Regions from separate parts of the Homo sapiens genome. Here region 2 is linked to region 1. The links come from fine-mapping of genetic effects on gene expression. A gene starts in region 1. The other region holds a variant in brackets. All regions are shown on one strand. Distances are between the middles of the regions. Region 1 holds the start of AIM2 (absent in melanoma 2). Region 2 has its middle 13 kb from the start of TRR-TCT4-1.

Evidence for each region. PIP is the estimated chance that this variant, and not a neighbour inherited with it, causes the effect.
Region 2: its variant is fine-mapped to the expression of AIM2 in whole blood (TOPMed, PIP above 0.99).

The regions. Positions count from the first base shown.
Region 1 is chr1:159,071,678-159,080,766 of GRCh38, reverse strand. It overlaps AIM2 (absent in melanoma 2), which reads left to right and starts at 4,001. Exons shown (of 6, transcript NM_004833.3): 1 at 4,001-4,134; 2 at 7,248-7,529. The coding sequence starts at 7,268. RefSeq lists an enhancer at 3,260-3,559.
Region 2 is chr1:159,150,449-159,159,537 of GRCh38, reverse strand. No RefSeq gene overlaps it. Among named protein-coding and RNA genes, the nearest start is that of TRR-TCT4-1, 13 kb to the right of the region's middle. The variant G/A (reference allele first, on the strand shown) is at 4,661.

The sequences.
Region 1 (9,089 bases):
AATGCAAAGGCATATGGACATTGCTTATTAGTTTAAATGCCAGAGATTAGATATTAAAGCAGTGGTTCTCTAAGTGTTGTGTCAAGACCAACAGCATCAGAATCACCCAGGAACCTGTCAGAAATGCTGGGGGTGAGGCCTAAAATCCGTATTTTTCACAAGCTTCCCCCAGGAAATTCTAATGCATGCTAAAGTTTGGAAACCACTGTTTAAAGGATACATTTTTTAAAATTAGCATTTAATTGCATTGAGGTGTTTGCTTTTACTTGTGATTTCTTTACAAAAGTTCTGAAATTGAGGCATCACTAAACAAGTCTGAACAATTCTTTATATGATGTATTTCTAAAGTATACCTTTTTAAGAAATCTATGGACAAGATATGAAAGTCTTCAGAGTCATAGATTTTCTCCTTATTCTTAAAACTGTTCAATGCAGTACTTATTAGATACCTTTCGTTTGCTCATAAACATTTATTGACCAAATCATTGTATTAAAAACCAATTAGTGGTTTCTTACAAGACTAAACATACTCTTATTATATCTTATTATACAACACAGCAATTGCATTCCTTGATATTTACCCAAAGTTGAAAAATTAAGTCCACATAAAAACATGCACACAGATATTTATAGAAGGTTTATTCGTAATTGCCAAAACTTGGAAGCAACCAACGTGTTCTTCAGTAGGTGAATGGATAAACAGATAAATGGAGACAATGGAATATTTTTTAGTGCTAAAAAGAAATGAGCCATCAAGCCATGAAAAACCATGGAGGAATCTTAAATGCAGATTACCAAGTGAAAGAAGACAATCTGAAAAGGCTATATACTGTATGACTTCAACTATATGAAATTCCAGAAACAGCAAAACTATAGAGACAGTAAAAAGATCAGTGGTTGCCAGGATTTGTCGGGAGAGAGATGACTAGACAGAGCACAGAGGATTTTAGGGCAGGGAAACCACCCTGTATGATACTGTGAGGGTGGATACTCATTATACATTTGTCCAAACCCACAGAATGTACAACACCAAGTGTACCCTAGTGGCAACTCTGGAGTCTGGGTGATAATGATGTGTCATGCTCAGTCCACCCTGGTGGGAATGTTGATAATGGGGAGGCTGTGCATGTGTGAGGGAAAAGGGTATATGGAAACCTGTACCTTCAGCTCAATTTTACTGTGAGCCTAAAACTGCTTTAAAAAATAAAGTCTACTAAAAAGAAAAAAACTGGAAAAAAAATGCAAAGTGACATGCTTTTGTGTGTGTTCTTTCTCATTCATCAAATTCGGTATTTATTTGATAACTTGCTTTTTTCTCCATTCGCTCTTGTTTAAATGCTTATTAGCTGGTTATTATTCATCGGGGCATAAACCTGTATATTTCTTATTTTTTTTCTCTCCTGTTTTTCCATTTTATTCTTTTCTAGGCATACTTTTAGAAAGAGATCTTCAGCTTTATCACTCTATTAGCTTTAAAACTTTTCTGCTATCACATTTAGAAAATATATTTATAAAATCTCTTCTGTAATTTGTTCATTTTTTACAAGTATTAGCACTGTCTTTTTGTTTCATGGATGCAATGTCTTTTCTTATCTCTCTGATGACCATATATATTTCTTCTTCTACCCTCTGCTTTGTCCTTAAGTTCCTTCTTCTGATTTGTTTTCTGTTTTTTTTTTAAGTTGGAGGCTTTTCTGAATGTTATTTATGTCTGTTTACTCATATTTAAGAAAGAAATGTCCATACATGTATACACACAAAACTGACTTGAATTCTTTTTGCGTTGGCCTGGTTTATTTATGAGTTAGTTTAATTATAGGATTGGCACGAAAGGGCCTGAGTCTTTGTATTGGAAAACTCAAAATGTCAGTAACGGTGAGAGTTTTTCCCTTCTTGGGCCAGTTGCTACAGTAGGAGCCTCCAGTCTTCTGCTTATGGCATAAACCTTGCTGTCAGTACTCTAGAAGTCAGGGAGGAAAGGGCTTGGGGATCCCACTTTTCTCCGTGAGACTGTTAACAAACCTCCTTTTTCAGCACAGTTGCCTCCTTTCCCTTCTGTGTCTTGTGTCACCAAGTTGGGTATCTCTCTGATTAAATTTCTTGGTAAAACAAAGCTGGACGATGAGTACTTGTCTCTCTGCCCCAGGTGCAGCAGTGTACCTGCTCCTCATTGAGACCACTTCCCAGCTTAATCACTTAACTCACCTTTTACAGGACCTGAAGCCTCAAATCAGTACGCCTCTCTGGGGTTGGTGCTTGTTGGGTTCTTCCTCAACAGGGAGCTTTCTCTCGTTTACTCAGTAGGTTACCAAATTCATACACTTCACATCTTTTTAATTCTTACATATTGTTCTCTTTGGTGTTCTTTCGCCTTGTGTGATCCACTCATTCATGCATTCACTCATTCAACGAATATTTTCTGAACACCTTCTCTGTGCCTGGCACTGTGTCAGGTGAAGTGGATGCAGTGAGCCAGTGGGCAGAAATCTCTTCCCTCATGTGCCTTACATTTTAGGAGCATGAGGCAGAGAATAAACAAACAAATGACATATACCGTATGTCAGATGATGGTCAGTAACACGTGTGGGAAAAGATAATGTGGGGAAGAGGTAGAGAACATGCTGGTCAGAGAAGCCCCACAGATAAGGTGCTATTTGAGCTGAAAGCTGGCAAAAGTGTAGAAACAAGCCTTGCAGTAGAAAGTGAAGGAGGTCCTGCAGCTCTGGGCTGATTACCTGGGCATGGTTAGGTGCTCTTCCTCTGCTCCTTGAGCATCTTGAGCATGCTTTAATTATAACACTTATCATCATGTCCTATTGTGATTATTAAATCACATGTCTGTTTTCATGACTTGGCAGAGCCGCTCAACATCTGGAACTTTGTCTTACTAACTTTTATATTCTCAGAATCTAATACATCATATTAGATGTTCAGTGCATAATTGTTAATTCAATGAATAAGAAAGGAAAACCTCAAGTAAATTGCTGACTAGAATCAAGCCCTCAAGCTCTGAATTTAGGGTTAGGAGCCTGGGTTAGGAAGAAAGACTGTATATATGCTTTTGAGGCAAGCAGTCAGTGAGGGAATGAGGCATGATTACTTGCAGGTGGCTACAAGCAATAAAAATGCGGTCAAAAAGGTTAGCAGAGGGATTGCCCCACTAGTAGATAGGAACTGTTACAACAGCCTGTGACAATGAAGACAGATTGCAAACTTCCTACTTAGGCACAGATGAGAATGTAACACAGAAGAAACTGGCCGCAACTGGTTAAAGCCAAGATGGTCGAAAACTTGGCTGACTGCTGACCCTTAGCTTCATTATGCCCTTAATATCATAAAACTTCCATGGGGAAATTCCCACTCCCATCATGCACCTGACGCCATGACAGTTCCGGATTAACCATCTTTAGTCAAGAAAAGGGTGGCACCCCGATTCCGGGAATTGCCCGCCCATTTCCCAGAAAACCCCTCCCCTTGATTACAGAGTACTCCATACCTTCATTGTGCTTATTCATATAGTACGTGAACCACATTGCCTGTGACTCAAATCTTTGAGTGCCTGCACTCCTCCCTTGAGGGTGTCGTTGGTTTTGCTCCACAATAAAATGTCTATACTTTCGCTTGGGTCTCATTTTCAGATTCTCTTATGCTTTGAAGACAAGAACCTGCACTGCCCTACTGGCAACACTTTTAGATACCCTCTGAGATCAGTGTGCTTGTTTATACCAGAAAAATGTCATCACCAGGCCCCTTAGTCACAAAGTGTATCAAGAAGTCATCTGCGGTCATTTTTTACAGTTTCTAGGCCACTTTCTGTTTCCAATCAGTGTAGTTCCTATGTGGCATGACTCAGATACAAGTTTCTATAGACATTTTCTTCTGTGGCTGCTAGTGAGAACCCAAACCAGCTCAGCCAATTAGAGCTCCAGTTGTCACTCCTACCCACACTGGGCCTGGGGGTGAAGGGAAGTGTTTATTAGGGGTACATGTGAAGCCGTCCAGAAGTGTCAGAGTCTTTGTAGCTTTGAAAGTCACCTAGGTTATTTGGGCATGCTCTCCTGAGTCCTCTGCTAGTTAAGCTCTCTGAAAAGAAGGTGGCAGACCCGGTTTGCTGATCGCCCCAGGGATCAGGAGGTAAGCACCATAGAGGAGCTGGGTTAGAGACGAGAGACTTAACCGTTTCTCTGCTGAAAAAGACAACTGAGGAAAGGCCAGCCATGCTGTGCACACCTCTGAGAACCTGAACCTGCAAACATGGACATCAGCTCTGAAAGGATGGGTTCATTTCTCTTTTATTCACTTTAGCCATGTCCTCTGGTGTCTCTGAGCTGGTGTTCCTTAAGCTTCGGCTTCCTTTGGGGTTTGTCTATCAGCCTATTTGTAAGGCTGACTTTTATGCCAATAGCAAATACAAGCATTTTTTAAGTTAACAGATATTATGAAGTAAAATGCAAGTTTTTCATTTATAAGGCAACATAACTTCAGAGAAAAAACTGAGTCAATCACATAAAATGTGATTAAAATGTGATTGTTATTATATAAGAGGGTTATAGGAAGATTAGCTTCTTATGGACAAGTAGAAAAGTAGGAATCATCCAAGCTGATTGTCACAGTAGATATTCAACAAAGGTAGTGTCCTTCCTTGCTTTCATCAGTAGGATGGGGGCATTTGGATGGCTTTATCATTGCAAATATTTTTAATGTATTCCTTATTTTGAAAATGGTCCTGATAATAGTTTTAATTTTCACTCATGAACTCTACATGTATAAGTAGAGTTTCTCCAGCGCTTACCAACATATAGGAAAAAACATTATAAGGCCATTAACAGTGATAGTTTAGAATTTATTAACATTGACTCTACTGATGGGGGTATTCAAGCTTCCCTAAAATTCACAATCAGTTATTTTCAGCTCATAAACATCTTTTCCTGTTCTTTGGCTTATTTCTTCCACTTTATATGTTGCTGCTCTGGAAGTCATTAATTGCTAATAATGTCAAACATCTTTTTTATGTTTATTGGATATTTGAGCAAATTGCTCATTCACATCTTTTGCACACTTTTCAAATAGACTGTTGTTTTCTTATTGATACATGGTTCTCCATGTATTCCAAAAGCAAAACCTCTATTAGCTCTCTCTCTCTCTCTCTCTCTCTATATATATATATATAGCAGGTATAGCCATATATATATGTGTGTGTGTGTGTGTGTGTGTGTGTGTGTGTGTGTGTGTATTGCAGGTATCTGCCCAGTTTTTGCCTTGTATAATCACTTTGTTTAGTGTGTGTGTGTGCACGGATGTGTGTGTTTCCTACAAAGAAATTGAGAATATGCATGCAATCACATTTGACAAATTTTTTTTTTCTGGCTTGTCCTTTTTGTGCCTTATTTAAGGAACCTCCTTCTACTTCAATGTATTGAGAAATTCTGTGTTTTATTCAACATCATTACTATTCTATTTAGATAATTAATCCAACCAGATATATATTTTGTGTATGATATAAGAGAAAGGCTGAATATATCATTCCCTGTGTATTGTCATTTGTCTGAACACTTTTTATAGTTGGCCATTCTTTCCTTGTGATTTTTAATGCCACTTTGATTATATACCAAGCTTTAATTTACATGTGGTCCTGTTTCCACACTCTATTTATTAGTTCATTTTTTTCTACGCCACTGCCATACTGATTTAATAATTATACATTTGTAGTAAGTATTGATACCTAGTAGTAGGGATAGTACATCCTGATAAACATATTCAACTTGTTTTGCAGGTTTTTGTCTTTATTTTTTTCATTTAGGTTTTAGGATCATTCTGATAAATTCTATGAAAAACCCTTTGAGATTTTGGATAGGAGTTTATAGATTAATTTGACAACACTGCTGTCTTCATTTTATCAAATCTTCCCATTTAAAATATCAGACATACACCCACTTAAGTAGGTCCTTTAAATCTCCCAATAAAGTTTTATAAGTTTCCCTTTAAAACTCTTAAATATATTGTATTCGATGTTCTTATGTACTTTGTAGTTTTGTTGCTATTGGAAATTACTTTTTTTATGTAATTTTTTTCTCTCTTGGAGTGGTACTAAAATAAAGGAATGCATTTCTGTATATTAATCTTATAGTTATAAACTGTTGAATTATTATTTATAATGTTTTGTGTATTATTTTGGATACTATACATAAACAACTATATTACTACAACGTGATTTTGGCAACAAGTTACAAAAATAGGTTGATGGACAGAATAAAGAATCCAGAAATAGACTCACTCATATTTGGACAACTGATTTTTGCAAAGGTAAAAAAAAAAATCATTAAAAATGACAGTCTTTTTAACATATGATTCTGGGAAAATTCATATTCATATGAAAAATAAATGAACTTTGAATCATCACTTATATCATATACAAATTAACTCAAAGCAGTACATACAGCCAAATGTGAAATGATCAAACCGTAAAATTCTTACAGGAAGACATAAAATCTTCTAATCTTGAGATTGGAAAAGATTTCTTAAATAAGACACTGAAAGCATGATCCATGAAAGAACAGATTGATTAATTGCACTTCATCAGGTATATGTATATGCCAAAATTTATCAGATTGTATACTTCCAGTGTATGCACCGTGTTGTATGCCAGTTATGCCTCGATAAATCTATTTTAAAAATAACAGGAAAATGTATCCTGTTTCCTTTTTGTTGTTGTTGTTGTTGTTGTTTTGAGATGAAGTTTCGCTCCTGTTGCCCAGGCTGGAGTGCAATGGCGCGATCTTGGCTCACTGCAACCTCCACCTCCCAGGTTCAAATAATTCTCCTGCCTCAGCCTCCTGAGTAGTTGGGATTACAGGCGCCCACCACCATGCTCGGCTAATTTTTGTACTTTTAGTAGAGATGGGGTTTTGCCATATTGGCCAGTCTGGTCTCAAACTCCTGACCGCAGGTGATCCGCCCACCTTGGCCTTCCAAAGTGCTGGGATTATTACAGGCGTGAGCTACCGCGCCCAGCTAATGTATCTTGTTTTCTGAGAATTCCAGAGGTGTTGTATACTTTCTGAAGATGTCTTTCCCAGGAGTAGTGATCACCTTGCTTAAGAAGTTCTTACCTATGTCCTACTCAAATCTCTTTTACTACTGCAAATATTTTATTTTTCTTTAAAAAATATTAATAGCTCACCTTGCTTTATTTTGAATGTAGAATCACTTTTGGTGGTGTAATCTTACATGTTTTGGATTCCTTATAGGCTGATCCCAAAGTTGTCAGATGGAGAGTAAATACAAGGAGATACTCTTGCTAACAGGCCTGGATAACATCACTGATGAGGAACTGGATAGGTTTAAGTTCTTTCTTTCAGACGAGTTTAATATTGCCACAGGCAAACTACATACTGCAAACAGAATACAAGTAGCTACCTTGATGATTCAAAATGCTGGGGCGGTGTCTGCAGTGATGAAGACCATTCGTATTTTTCAGAAGTTGAATTATATGCTTTTGGCAAAACGTCTTCAGGAGGAGAAGGAGAAAGGTAATGTGGGAGTTCCACACCTGCCCCGTCCCTTTTTCTGCCAAGCCTGGGCCTTTCCTTTCATGGCATCCCTGGGATATGACCCCCAGTGCACATTGTTGGAATTTGTTTGCTAACTTAGTGCACCTGTCTCTTTGCCCCCTTTTACTGAGAATCGCTTCTAGGAAGTGTTTGTTACAAATTCCACAAATCCATTCCAGCCTTTGTTTGCATCTCTTCTTCCAGCCTTAGGGTTACCACTTCCATTTAACATCTTTTCTCCTTGCCCATCTTTGTCTCCAGTTCAGTTGCAGTGAATATGGACGTAGAATTTCAAAGTTAACTTCTCCCAACTCCATTTACACAGTATGTAATGCTGTCACATTCTACTGAAGTCTTGAAAGTATAAATTATTGCATTGGAAAACTGTAAACCAGGATATTGAGCACCTTTTTTCCTTCACACAGTCTGTCTATTCCTCTCCTTGTCCCCAGCTTTCTGTGGTCCCAGACTATCCTTCTTTAGGCGATGATCTCCTCCTTCTTCAGAAGGGAGGGAGAATCCACCTTCAGGGATTTTCTTTCCTCTCTATCTCCAGTACAGGTGACAGTATAAATTACCCACAACACAAAGATTTTTTTTACATTATTCAATAAATCACTCATCTCCATCTGAATTATCTACATTTAGTTTAAATTCCTGATTTTGTTTACTAAGAACAATTGATATGTCCCAGCTTTATGTCTGAAGAACAAAAAGGAGCTAACAGAGGAGCATATCACTCAAGGACTCTCCAAAATGAAAGTCTCCAAATGCAACAGTTTTAGGATTCAAAGTACAACAGTAGCAGCAAAAATTATAATAGCTTTTAGTAGCATTTGTGGGTGTACAACAAGGGTGACATGGCTTCTCACACATGAGTTATAGGAAGGCTAAATGAAGCCACATAAGTGATACTATGTACATTCATAATTCTATACAGATATAAACTGTTAGGTAGTTTCTAAGGCACTAAAGAGAAAGGAGTGGTGGTTTTCCCAGGCTTTAAGTTAGAAGGTGTAGTTCTTAGAGATGGCCCTTAGATGGCAGTAACTACACATGTTACTTCCAAGTAACCAACCAAAACATTGCCCTGTGTTTTTCTTATCTGGGATGAGCCAGGAATCTAGGCATATTGGCAAACATAGGCTGAGATATTTAGAAATATCTTTTATTTTGGTAATAAATCAAGAATTAATTCTTCTCTTTGACCAGGATAGAACAAAATTTCCCCTTCTACAATCTTCTCCCCATTTTGCTATTCTAATGATTCTGGGATTTTGTTATTCTGCTTAGCTAAAAAAGATCCAGTTTGGGACTAGCTTGGAAACTCAGGAGTAGATTATCCAAGGACTCTCCCAAATGAGAGTCTCCAAATGTAACAGTTGTAGGATTCAAAGTATGCTTTTGGGCCAGGCGCAGTGGCTCACGCCTTTAATCCCAGCACTTTGGGAGGCCAAGGCGGGTGGATCACTTGAGTTCAGGAGTTCGAGATCAGCCTGGCCAACATAGTGAAACTTTGTCTCTACTAAAAATACAAAA
Region 2 (9,089 bases), 79 kb before region 1:
TCCTAAGCAAGACACAACACCTAGAGTCGATAAAGGAAAGGACCGATAAGATTTACTGCATAATTTTTAAAACTGATATAATTGCAGACCCATAGACAAAATGTAAAAGTAAGTCACAGACTGGGAAGATTTTATTTGCAATATATATGCCAAAGTATCAAAATTGCTAACATGCAAAATAGTCAGCAAATAAACATAAAAAAGACAAACAGTCCAAGAGAAAATTGGGCAAAGGATATGAGTATGAATTCTCAGAAAAAAAATACAGTTGTCTAATAAACATTTGAAAAGATGATCAACGGCATTTGGATTTTGAGAAATACAAGTTATAGCACCAAAGAGATCCTAGACTGTTAAAAAGCATCAAAGAACCCATCAGATTGTTAAAAAATTAAAATGATGGATAATACTCAGTGTTGGCAAGTGCTTAGGGAAATAGGCACCTTTATATATTGTTAGGGAGGATGTAAATTGGCACAGCCTTTTTGGAGATATTTTGGCAGAATGCATCAGAATTAAAAATAGAAATACCAGCAGTGCTATTTCTACAAATTATGCTATAGATCTGTTCACACATGAGTGCTCTGATTTATGTGCAGAGATATGCATCACATCATTTTTTTCCAGTAGTGAAAAATTGAAGACAACATAAATATTCATCAATAGTGAATTGGATAAATAGATTATGCTATATCATACTTTGTAATAACACATTGCAGTTAAAAAGAATGAGGTAAATTTATATCTACCAACATAGAAAGATACAGAAGGTATGTTGTTCAGTGAAAATACAAAGAAAATACACATACTGCTATCCCTTTTGTGTAAAATGGGAAAAAAGCATAAAACATATACATATGTGTATGTAAAATCTTATATGCATATAAATATGTGTTTAAGTAAATGAATAGTTACTTACTGGCTGTGTGACTTCAGGCAAGATACTTAACCGCCTCAGCATTTTTTTTCATTGTGTGGAAAATAGAGATAATTTTACATGACCCCTAGGGTGGTATGATGTGAAAATTAAATAAATTAATCTATTTAAATTGCTTTAAATAGCGCCTGGCACATAGTAGGCACTTGAGTGTTTCTATTGTTCAGATGCATATTAAACTTGGAAAATTATTTTCTGGGCCAGGAGTGAGACTTAAGTCATAAGGGGGACTATAATTGTCCATATTATATACTTCATATTTTTATAATGTGTGCCTATGTATTGAATGATTAATTTTTTTTAAATTAAATGCTTATTCTAAGAATATGAGTTAAAAGATGATTATAGAAATCCAGGAACAAAGTAAAAGAGTCCTGAGCAAGGGCAGTGGAATTGGGAATGGAAAAGAGGTGCTACGTTTGGTGTTGGTTATGGGAAGCAAGACAGAGGGAGAAGGCTGAGGCAGCTCTCAGTTTTGGCTTTTGAGTGACTTGGAAAATGCTGAACCATGAAAAGAAATAGTGGAATTAGGAGAAGCTTTTTGTGGGGTTTAGTATTTTGGAATGAAGGAGGATTAGTGTCTTACTTGAGGCTGCTAAAACAGAATACCATAAACTATGTGGCTTAAACAACAGACTTTGGTTTCTCACAGTTCTGGAGGCTGGGAAGTCCAAGATCAAGGTACTGGTGGATTTGATTCCTGTTGAGTGTCCTCTTCGTGGTTTGCAGACAGCCACCTTCTCAATGTGTCTTCACATGGTGGAAAAAGAGATTGTCTCCCTGTGTCTCTTCTTATAATGACACTAATTCCATTTATTAGAGTTCCACCTTCATGACCAAATCACCTCTCATAGGACTCACATCTAAATACATGAGGGATTAGAGTGTTAACATCTAAATTTGCAGGAGACATAATCAATTTGTAACAATTTTGTTAGATTACATTGAGTTTAAGCTGAGGGCAACCCATCAAGTAGGAAATATTGAATAGACTGGATATGAAAACTGGAGCTCTGGAGAAAGTTGAACGTTCTACCACTTTGAAGTAGACCAGCAGAAGAAGCCTAAAGTTCTCAGTGTCATTTTAAGAGTTCCCATCTAATACTTGCATTACAAAAATCAAGAACTGTGGTATTATAGGATGATATGTGTCTAGGAGGACAAAGACCTGTTCTAGTGGTTTTGATTGTTGATTCTTTTTCTTTGGTAAACATACATTGAACAACTACCATGTGCCAGGCACTGCCCAGACTATCAAGGGTAAAAAAACTCAAGTTTCTCTCTCTCTGGTAGGAACAGAGATTCACAAAATTGAGTACGTTACAGAGTGCTCAGTCCTCCGATAGCCATATGCACAGGGTGCAGTAATGGTGTGAAGATGGGTGTGATCCAGTCTGCTTGGGGTTGTGGTGGATGTCAGGGAAGATATTATAAAAAATGAGGTGATTGAAACTGAGTCTTCAAAGAGGAGGAACAGTCTTCCAGACAGATGTGAGGGTGGAGACAGGAGAAAGGCATTCCAAAAAGAGAAACCATTGCAGCATACCAAGTCATATTAGTATGGAAAACGAACCTTTTTTTTTTCATTTTGAGAACTCTAAGTACTTATTGTAAAATGTAAGCTGAGAGGGGAGGCTGGGGGATAATAGTAACTGATGTTGCAAAAATGGACGGGAATCAGATCACAGATGGCTTTTAGTCTCTTCTTTAGACAAGAGAGAACTTTAAGGGGTTTTGCCTTCAAGAAAAATTATAATTGCTCTGTTGGTGGTGTAGCTGATTGGCAGAAAGGCAGCAGGGATGGTTACACGTAGACAAGTGAGGGATTATTAACATATCAAATAGTCCTGGCTGCATCATCCTGATACCAAAGCCTGGCAGAAACACAACAAAAAAAGAGAATTTTAGACCAATATCCCTGATGAACATTGATGTGAAAATCCTCAATAAAATACTGGCAATCCAAATCCAGCAGCACATCAAAAAGCTTACCCACCATGATCAAGTCAGCTTCATCCCTGGGATGCAAGGCTGGTTCAACATACACAAATCAATAAACGTAATCCATCACATGAACAGATCCAACGACAAAAACCACATGATTATCTCAATAGATGCAGAGAAGGCCTTTGACAAAATTCAACACCCCTTCAAGCTAAAAACTCTCAATAAACTAGGTATTGATGGAAGGTATCTCAAAATAATAAGAGCTATTTATGACAAACCCACAGCCAATATCATACTGAATGGGCAAAAACTGGAAGCATTCCCTTATAAAACTGGCACCAGACAAGGATGCCCTCTCTCATCACTCCTATTCAACATTGTATTGGAAGTTCTGGCCAGGGCAATCAGGCAGGAGAAGGAAATAAAGGGTATTCAATTAGGAAAAGAGGAAGTCAAATTGTCCCTGTTTGCAGATGACAAGATTGTATACTTAGAAAACCCCATCTTCTCAGCCCCAAAACTCTTAAGCTGATAAGCAACTTCAGCAAAGTCTCAGGATACAAAATCAATGTGCAAAAATCATAAGCATTCCTATTCTCCACCAATAACAGACAGAGAGCCAAAACATGAGTGAACTCCCATTCACAATTGCTTCAAAGAGAATAAAATACCTAGGAATCCAACTTACAAGGGATGTGAAGGACCTCTTCAAGGAGAACTGCAAAGCACTGCTCAAGGAAATAAAAGAGGACACAAACAAATGTAAAAACATTCCTTGCTCATGGATAGGAAGAATCAATATCGTGAAAATGGCCATACTGCCTGAAGTAATTTATAGATTCAATGCCATCCCCATCAAGCTACCAATGACTTTCTTCACAGAATTGGAGAAAACTAAAGTTCATATGGAACCAAAAAAGAGCCCGCATTGCCAAGACAATCCTAAGCCAAAAGAACAAAGCTGGAGGCATAACGCTACCTGACTTCAAACTATACTACAAAGATACAGTAACCAAAACAGCATGGTACTGGTACCAAATCAGATATATAGACCAATGAAACAGAACAGAGGCCTCAGAAATAACACCACGCATCTACAACCATCTGATCTTTGACAAACCTGACAAAAACAAGAAATGGGGAAAAGATTCCCTATTTAATAAGTGGTATTGGGAAAACTGGCTAGCCATGTGTAGAAAGCTGAAACTGGATCCCTTCCTTACACCTTTTACAAAAATTAATTCAAGATGGATTAAAAGACTTAAACATAAGACCTAAAACCATAAAAACCCTAGAAGAAAACCTAGGCAATACCATTCAGGACATAGGTATGGGCAGGGACTTCATGACTAAAACACCAAAAGCAATGGCAACAAAAGCCCAAATAGACAAATGGGATCTAATTAAACTCAAGAGCTTCTGCACAGCAAAAGAAACTATCATCAGAGTGAACAGGCAACCTACAGAATGGGAGAAAAATTTTTGCAGTCTACCCATCTGACAAAGGGCTAATATCCAGAATCTACAAAGAACTCAAACAAATTTACAAGAAAAAAATAACCCCCTCAAAAAGTGGGCAAAGGATATGAACAGACACTTCTCAAAAGAAGACATTTACGCAGCCAACAGACACATGAAAAAATGTTCATCATCGCTGGTCATCAGAGAAATGCAAATCAAAACCACAATGAGATACCATCTCACATCAGTCAGAATGGCGATCATTAAAAAGTCAGGAAACAAAAGATGCTGGAGAGGATGTGGAGAATTAGGAAA[G/A]CTTTTACCCTGTTGGTGAGAGTGTAGATTAGTTTAACCATTGTGGAAGACAGTGTGGCGATTCCTCGAGGATCTAGAACTAGAAATACCATTTGACCCAGCAATCCCATTACTGGTATATACCCAAAGGATTATAAATCATGCTACTATAAAGACACATGCACATGTATGTTTATTGTGGCGTTATTCACAATAGCAAAGACTTGGAACCAACCCAAATAAGCATTGATGATAGACTGGATTAAGAAAATGTGGCACATATATACCATGGAATACTATGCAGCCATAAAAAGGATGAGTTCATGTCCTTTGCAGGGACATGAATGAAGCTGGAAATCATCATTCTCAGCAAACTATCACAAGGACAGAAAACCAAACACCGCATGTTCTCACTCATAGGTGGGAATTGAACAATAAGAACACTTGGACACAGAGCAGGGAACATCACACACTGGTGCCTGTCAGAGGGTGGGGAGCTGGGGGAGGGATAGCATTAGGAGAAATACCTAACGTAAATGATGAGTTGATGGGTGCAGCAAACCAACATGGCACATGTATACCTATGTAACAAACCTGCACATTGTGCACATGTACCCTAGAACTTAAACTCTAATAAAAAAAACAAAATAACTAAATAAATAAATAAACAAACAAATAGTCCTGGCTACAGAGGATAAACTATCTGAACTAAGCCAAGAGCAGTGGGAATGGAAAGTGAGGCATACATTTGAGAGCTATTAAAGAGACAGAGTGGATAGACCTTAGTAGCTGATTAAATTTGGAAGATAAAGTTTTAGGGAGAGGAGCCTTGACTCACTCCACATTTCTGGCTTAAGAGACTGGATGGCCAGTTTTGTCTCCCCAAAACTGTTTTTATCAAATCAATCTTCCTTCAATTTACTGTTATGTAGCCAATTCTATTACTGTGGTTCAGATCTCCATTATATCTTACCTTGACTACTGAAAAAGCCTCTTCACTGTGCACTCTTGAAATTATCTGCTACAGCCAGAGTGATCTTTCTAAAATGCAAATCAAATCATCGTTCTCCCTTACTTAAAACCCTTCACTGCCTCTGCATCTCCTACAGGATTACAGTTGACCTTTAACATGACATATGTCGATCTGCATGGTCTGATTTTTGTTTCCACATGCCTTGTCACTTCCTGCCTGGGATTTTGAACTTCAGCAATATCTCTCATTTCTTGTAGTTTCTTACACAGACAAGATGGTTTTTGCTGTATTTTTACTCATGCTTTCCTGTCTTATCTCCTTGGCTCCCCCAACACACACACACACACACACACACACACACACACACACACACACAAAATCTCTGTCCCCATCCCTCCCTAACCTCTTCTTTTGCTCTGTTTACAGCTATTCTTACTTTGAACCTCAGCTTAGGTCTGCAGCTCTAGAAAACGTTCTTAGACTCCTCAGACTGGATTCATTTGCCCATTTTTGTTTTTGTAGCATGCTGGACATATGATTTCTAGAGTTGGGCAACTTTGTTTCATGACTTTGTTTATTTTTCTGTTTTTGACTGTGATTTTTATTCAGAATAGACATATCATCATTATCTTTATATCTCCAATACTCAGCACATTTCTTATTATACAGTAGGTATTTATGGATTTATGGAGCAAATAAATTAATAAATGAGTAGGTGGATGATGGTAACCATTAATTAAACTAGTGGATTAGGCCGGGTGTTGTGGCTCACCCCTGTAATCCCAGCACTTTTGGAGGCCGAGGCGGGCGGATCACCTGAGGTCAGGAGTTCGAGACCTGCCCAGCCAACATGGTGAAACCCTGTCTCTGCTAAAATACAAAAATTAGCTGGGCATGGTGGCAGGTGCCTGTAATCCCAGCTACTAGGGAGGCTGAGGCAGAAGAATTGCTTAGCCCAGGAGGCAGAGGTTGTAGTGGGCTGAGACTGCACCACTGCACTCCAGCCTGGGTGACAGAGCGAGATTCCGTCTCAAAAAAAAAAAAAATGAATAAACTAGTGGATTATGAAGAACAGGTTTATGGGGAAATATAAGTTCTTATTTGTACATTTTGCAGTTGAGATCACTGTGAGTCACATAGGGATGGCAATCTAAAGGCAGCTGAGTATCCCAATCTGGATTTCACGTGATATGTCTGATTTTAAGATAGAGATTTAAGGGTTTTCAGCTCATAGCTGGTAGTACATATGGTACATATGCCGTTTACAATCACCCAGGAAGAAGATATAAAGAAGAGCACCAAGGTACAATGTATGGCAGTGTTTTTGACCACAACTCATATACCTATATATATACATTCATATGTAGCTGATACAAAGATTTCATGAAACAATACATGGTTTTTTTAGAGGGTGATACCCTCGGCTATTTTCTTTTCTATTCTGTCATATCCTATTCTATCATCTCTTTTCTCTGCTATTTAATAATATAAAAGTACTGCTAACCTTCTGGCTTGCAATCTGATAAGTGTCACTCTTTGGAACACTGATATTTAAGAAGGAAGAGGAGGAGCTGGTGAAAGAGATTGAGAAGGAGGGACTGAGGGATAGGAGGTGAATGAGAAGAGAGTGGCATGCCCCAGAAGCAAGAGGAGTCAGCATTTCTAAGGGTGAAGATGGGGTCACTAGTGTGGAATGCTGCAGAAACGTGAAGTGAAACTATTGAATTTGACAATTAGCAACAAGCCATTAGTGACTTTAGTGAGGACATTTAACAGTTGCTAGAGTGGAGTCAGTTGAGGAATGGATGGGGTAAAGGGGAAAGAACCAAAGCATTAACTATTCTTCCTAAAAATAAAGACCGTTCGGTGCTAGTCTACTAAAGATTTTCTCTTTCTTTATCACACTTATTTCTTATAATGACTTTACAAGATAGATATTATTACTTCTGTAAATTTTTTTTTTTTTGAGATGGAATCTCACACTGTCACCTGGGCTGGAGTGCAGTGGCACGATCTCGGCTCACTGCAACCTCTGCCTCCCAGGTTCAAGCGATTCTCCTGCCTCAGCCTCCCAAGTAGCTGGGATTACAGGCGTCCACCACCACACCTGGCTAATTTTTTGTATTTTTAGTAGAGATGGGGTTTCACTGTATTGGCCAGGCTGGTCTCGAACTCCTAACCTAGTGATCTGCCCGCCTTGGCCTCCCAAAGTGCTGGGATTACAAGTGTGAGCTACTGCGCCCGGCCACTTCTATGGATTTTTAAAATCAGATAAGTAATTTGAATCTCAGAGATCATTTAGGTGCCTTTAGGTGTCCATCATCATACACAGCTGAGATTCAAACCCTGGGTATCCCAACTTGAAAGTCTATAGTTTTCTAATTGGATCATAACTGTTTGTCTATTTTTGTGATATTGGATACATGATTTAATTTCTGTGGTTCTGAGTTTATTAATCTATGTAATTACAGATGGAGAGGCTTGACAAAAATTACAGACTACAGAAATATAGAGTATAAAGAGCAAACATTCACCCACTTAGCATTATCGGTTTGATCTTCAAATTAGTTTTTCTCTAAATTTATAAAAGTAATAAGAATATGTGACAAAAATTCAGCTGATCCATGAATAAAAGAGACTTGATTATTTTAAAACCCTTTTCCATTTTGAGCATTCTGTGATTCCAATAAGAGGTTATTTGATGCTTTTGATTTTCTAGTTTACCAGTTAAGAATAAATGCAAAGCATTCTGCTCTTCCCTTCCCTGCACTCTTTGTGTAAAGATTATGTTGGGGATTCCCCTCAATAAAATAATGGCAAAGCAAATCCAGCAGCACCTCAAAAAGGTTATTCACCACGATCAAGTCGGCTTCATCCTTGAGATGGATTCAACATATGCAAATCAATAAACATAATCCATCACATAAACAGACCCAATGACAAAAACCATATGATTATCTGAATAGATGCAGACAAGGCCTTCGATAAAATTCAACATCCCTTCAAGCTACAAACACTCAATAAACTAGGTACTGATGGAACATATCTCAAAATAATAAGAGCTATTTATGACAAACCCACAGCCAATATCACACTGAGTGGGCAAAAGCTGCAAGCATTCCCTTTGAAAACTGGCACAAGACAAGGGTGCTCTCTCTCACCACTCCTATTCAACATAGTATTGGAAATTCTGGCCAGGGAAATCAGGCAAGAGAAAGAAATAAAGCATATTCAAATAGGAAGAGAGGAAGTCAAATTATCTCTGTTTGCAGATGACATGATTGTATATTTAGAAAACCCCATCGTCTCAGCCCCAAAACTTAAGCTGATAAGCAACTTCAGCAAAGTCTCAGGATACAAAATCAATGTGCAAAAATCACAAGCATTCCTATACACCAATAACAGACAAACAGAGAACCAAATCATGAGTGAACTCCCATTCACAATTGCTACAAAGAGAATAAAATACCTAGGAAT